Linked DNA regions of Homo sapiens: region 1 is linked to region 2. A link means that fine-mapping ties the variant in region 2 to the expression of a gene that starts in the linked region. Tissue or cell type: CD4 T cells. Region 2 holds a variant in brackets; the other region holds the start of a gene. All regions are shown on one strand. Distances are between the middles of the regions.

Region 1 (2,685 bases), 980 kb before region 2:
TTTATATAAAAAGCAAACCATTAACCCATTTCCTCGTTCCAAAGACCCCCGTGGGTTTCAGACTAAATAGAATCCTTTGTTACGTGTCCAAAAATAACACAACACGGTATTGGTAAATTGGAAAATAATAGATAACTCTTATTTCCAAGAATGTCAGAGCTACTGGCCATAAATTTTGTTCTGCCCCAGTGAGTCCAATTTCATGCTTCTTTTAGCGAATCTACCGTCCTAACAACAGTAAAGCCAATCATATTAAACACGGTTCTCCTTTTCTCTTTCGACATTCCATTAATAAATACAAGGGCTGAAAGAAGACGCCAAGCGGGCCAGTTTCTTTATGCACAATGGTATCCTCTAAGCGAAATACCTCCAACCACAGCGAAAGTTGTCTTTCTAGCAGATGCCCACCCCAACCGGCCCAGGCAGAGGGGGCAAAGGGTAAGAGGGAAGCGTAACATCCCAGCTCTCCCACCTCTAGAGGAAGGGAAGAGGGTATGACAGAGAGCGGAGTAGGAAGGTGGGCGAGTGGGAGAGACAGAAATGGATGCTGAGGGGGTGGGCGAGATGGGAAGGTAGGGAAAGGTGGAGAATGCGGGGAGAGGTGGGTGCGCAAAGCGGCAAGATCCGAGAGCACAGCGGGGAGCGGTGGGGGGCAGCGAGGGGATCCGGGGGCGCGAAGTGGGGGGTCTGGTCCTCACCATTGAACGCCCCTGCGTCCGCGGGCGCCGCCTCCTCCTCCTCCCCGTCCTCGGAGTCGGACTGCATGGGCTCCTCGGCGAAGTTGACCCCCTTGCTGGGGGTGCCGCCCCCGGCAGCGGCGCCCAGGTCCCCCCAGGTCCTGCCCTCATGGCCGAAGCGCGCGGTGCCTTTGCGCTCGTTCTCCTGCTGCAGGCGGGTGAAGTGCTGCAGCGCGAACTCCAGCAGGTCCGCGGGCTGGTGCCTCAGCACCTCCACCGTGAAGCCCTGCAGCAGCTCCGTCAGTCCCGCCGGGATCTCGATGCTCATCCTGCCTCCGGGGCGGCAGGCGCCTGGGCGCCGCCCTCGCCCCCTCCCCGGCACGGCCTAGGGCCCCGCGGCTGCCGAGCGAGCGCCTACGGCGCTGGCGCGCTACCGGCTGCGAGCGCGGCGCACTGGGCCCCGGCGGCCCGGCTGGCCCGGCCCGCGGCTCCCGGCGCGCGTCTGCTCCGTGTGGTGGCGGCGGCTGAGCGAGCGCGGCCCCGGGAGGGCTGGCAGCATCTCCTGCTCCTCCCGCTCCAGCCGCGGCCGCGCCTCTCCCCCGCCCGGGCGCCCCGCCCCCGCCCCGCCGCGGTGCGCGGGAGGGGGCGCAGGAGAGCGCGCCCACGTGACCCCCGGAAACCATGGCAACCTCCGCTGGCTGGCGCCGCGCACCCGCCTGTCAGACCACCGCAGGGCTGCGCGCCCGGGCCGGGAGAGGCGGAGGGAGGCCCAGCGAGGCCGCCTTCGTGTCCACCTGTCCGCGCGTCCAGGAGCGGGCTGGCCACTCGCCCCGCTTCCCAGGCGTCATTCGCCATGGTGAACCCCCGCAGAGGTGGTGCCAGGAGATTTGTCTTGAAACTTCAGCCTCCACCTTAGTAGTGGCATTTTATTTTCCTTCTAGAATCTAGTTGCATGATAAGTGTTGCTAATGTCCTTTGTTTAAAGTCTTATGGTGGTACTGGTTCTCTTTTGGACAAAGAAATGCTACCCCATCTTTGTGACGTCTTTCTTTTTCTTCCCCACATTTTATCCAGCCTTTCCCGATCCATCCTGTTTATTATGTTTCGTCTTACTGATGCTATTCCGTTGTGCACTCCACGCATTTACTATTTATTGAGACAAAGGCACCATTTATTGAGAGGCACCTATCAAAGTTAGTTGATCTCTTTTAAATAGGATAGTGCAGGATGAGGCGCTTATTATTTTGAAACTTTCCTTTATGCTTTGAATGATTTTTGACTTGTATGTCCAAAAATTGAAATACTTCAGTATAAAGAAAAATAGAATTACTAATGTGTGCTTTTAAAGTAGAAGGCTTTGACTTTGAAATGAGGCTTACTTTGCAAATGTTTACAATTTTGAAGTAGAGAAAATTGTCTTTTGTCAATTAAATTCTATTTAAGTACGCATACTTCATTTTCTACAATTATCATATCATTGTAAATAAAATATTTCAAGAGCAAGCTCACTTGGTTATTCTGATTTATCTTCCCACCCACGGAAGAGTAAACACATGACTGGGGAAACTCCAAGTCTAGAAATCAGAGATGTAACGAACTAGTCCCTCTTGTAAAAATGGATCTTGATGTTAACCCTTTGTTAATGATGCATCCTGTATTGACTCCATGAGCCAATGTATTTCTCTATTTTCATTTCTTAACAACTTTATAGTAATAATGTTACGTTGCTTTAAATATACAGTAGTTAAGTGCTTCTAATTGTGTCGAGCATTTTAAGAATTAAACTTTTGGCCGGGCGCAGTGGCTCACTCATGCCTGTAATCCCAACACTTTGAGAGGCCGAGGTGGGCGGATCACCTGAGGTCAGGAGTTCAAGACCAGCCTGGCCAACATGGTGAAACCCCATCTCTACTAAAAATACAAAAATTAGCGGGCATGGTGGCAGGCACCTGTAATCCCAGCTACTCAGGAGGCTTAGGCAGAAGAATCGCTTGAATCCAGGAGGCGG
Region 2 (2,685 bases):
CCAAAGGAGAAGCAGGTTACAGGGATTTCTGGTAGTTGTTTCTGATGCCAGCTCCAGGTTAGACAGTCCTCATTCAACCTGACCCTTTAACACTTCTCCAATTTCTGTTTTTCAATATTTTTACGTTTTTAATTTATGTCCCATAAAATGCACAATTTTGAGCGCACATCACTGTGAATGTTTATCTACGCATACACCCATGTAACTACCCAAACCAAGATTCGCAACATTTCCACAGCCCCAGAAAGCTATCTGTGCCCCTTCCAAGTCCAAAGTAAGCATGCTTACCCAAAGGTAACTGCTATCTGACTTCCGTCATCTAGGATTAACATTGCTGATTCTTGAACTCCATTATAAATAGAATTACACAATATGTACTTTTTTATCTGTGTCTTGTTTCTTTCAACATCATGACTGTGAGGTTCACATTTCAAAAATTTGCTGTTTTTATAACTGTGTAATATTCCATCGTATAAATATGCCATAATTTGTTTACCATTCTCCTGTTGATGGGCATCTGGGTTGTTTGGAATAAAGCTGCAATAAACTTTCTTGTCCAAGTCCTTTTTGCAGCTGCTGTCTTTTGGCAATTCCAGGAAGGCCTGTGTTTTGTGTATGTGGATGCGTATTATTAAAGGAAAACCTTCTTGACAAGGCCTTGAACTCGCTGCTGGCCTCTGCCTGGGGTACCTTTGAGGATGAGCAGCTCCAAGGAGCAATGGACAGAAGCTCTAAATCACTAGTGACCAAGGGTAATGTCACATCCCCTCAATTATTTGTTTTTATTAGAGATCAGGAGAATTTGGGGGAAACCTAAAAGTGATTTTGAGCAGTTATTCTCATGCACTTATAAAGACTTTTACCTCTTGCAAAGGACCAGGGCTGGGGAAAGAGACAGAACCAGGATGTAGGTTGGGCCTCATGTACTTGGAGAATGGTATTGAACTCCCTACAGCATGTGGCCCCCAGTTAAGGGAATGGTTTTTCTATATCACAAATGGAAAATATTCTCATTTCTCTGTAATCATAGTCATAGTGTAAAGCATCCTTCGCTAGGGTTTGAATGAAAGAGGTAATCTCCTGATTTCTGCTAAAGAACTTCTCAAATCCTTCATTGCTGATGACTATGACATCCTCATAGGTGCCATTTTCCTCCTAACTTTTTTCCCAAATATTTCTGATCCACCCCAGCAATGCTACTAGTAAATATTCAGAGATTCCTAATCCTAGACTCCTCAGGCATCCTAGGTTTTAGAAGAGAAAGAGAGTTCTCTTTAGTTAAGAACTTGCTGTGGGCCAGGTACTATGTGAGGTAGTTTGCATCCATTTCATTATTTAATCTTTACAGCACAGTGAGATAGGTTTTATTATTCCCCTTTGATGGATGAGGAAACAGAAGTGCAGAGAGGTTCATTAATTTGCCCCAAATCACACAGCAGAGCCAGATTTGACCTGAGATATATTTGGCTTTCTTGCCTATAGCACATTGCTCCTTAAACTAAGTGTGTCTGGCCAGGTGCAGTGGCTCACACCTGTAATCTTAAAACTTTGGGAGGCCGAGGTAGGAGGATTGCTTGAG[G/A]CCAGAAGTTCAAGACTTGCCTAGGCAACATAGTGAGACTCTCATTTCTACAAAAACTAAAACTAAAAATAAAATAAGTGTCTCTGACCAGACCTCCTAGCCTGGCTCACACTGTCTCCATGGTACAAAACATTCATATGGTCGAAAAAAAGTATTGTCTCTCAAATGACTGTGAGATTCCACTATCCTTTTATAACTTCACGATATAGAAAATAGTCAAGCTCTTGAGGTTAAAGTAATGTAACTCAGAATCACATGTGGTCCACTGTGAAAAAGCTTAAGGTGACCCAGGGTGCAGCTGTGACTTCCAGAAACGTGGAGACCAAAGGGGAGCTACATAAGGTGTGGAAGGTGCCGAGAAGCACAGTCCCAGCTTGGGGCTGGGGCACTTCCCACCCACCCCGCGGGCTGTGATTAGCCCCCACACCCTGTCCTGGGCCCTGCACTGGCCGCTGCACACCACGCCCCTGCTCTTTGTTCCCCGGTAGCAGAGCCAGTATAATTTCATGCTTCCTAATTTCTGAGGATAGTGAATCAATTCCCCCCACCAGTTTGCCTAGAAGAAGAGCTTATTTAGACAAACGCCTCCAAGGAAACAGTTGTAGAGAGTCACTTAAGAAAACAAGAGGCTGCTAAAGGAATGCTCTGCGTGCAGTGTGGAACAATTCGCAGTCAGCATGGGCGCTCCTCGGCGGGGAGACGCTCCCGGGCAGAGTGAGCACACCTGCCGCACATCCTTCCCAAAAGGAACTCCGCTCATTCCGGACGCTGGACTGCAAATAAAAACAGCCAACGCTAGAGTCCTGGAGTCGGGGAGGGGCTGGGACAAAGGTGAATGAACTTTCCTCCTCTGGCTTCAGATCAGCCTTTAGATTTCTCAGAATGCCTGAGGTCATCTAAGTGGTCTCTAAGTTACTGTCACACCACCCCCATTTTAAGGGGGTTCAGGGCAGCGTGGCTGGTGGGACCCTCTCCTGGGACACTCCTCCAGGCGCCCCCCCCCATCCCCTGGAGGTATTGGACTGAAAACAAACTGCTCGCTTTAGGGGACAAAGGGCACTGGGGGGTTGAGGCTGCAGAGAGGGAACCCCGGGAGGAGAAATGGC

What was found. PIP is the estimated chance that this variant, and not a neighbour inherited with it, causes the effect.
Region 1: it holds the start of PRKAR2B, and the variant in region 2 is fine-mapped to the expression of PRKAR2B in CD4 T cells (BLUEPRINT, PIP 0.95).

The regions. Positions count from the first base shown.
Region 1 is chr7:107,043,228-107,045,912 of GRCh38, reverse strand. PRKAR2B (protein kinase cAMP-dependent type II regulatory subunit beta) reads right to left here and starts at 1,208. Exons shown (of 11, transcript NM_002736.3): 1 at 699-1,208. The coding sequence starts at 1,005. RefSeq lists silencers at 815-1,109, 896-1,455.
Region 2 is chr7:106,065,605-106,068,289 of GRCh38, reverse strand. No RefSeq gene overlaps it. Among named protein-coding and RNA genes, the nearest start is that of SYPL1, 45 kb to the left of the region's middle. The variant G/A (reference allele first, on the strand shown) is at 1,580.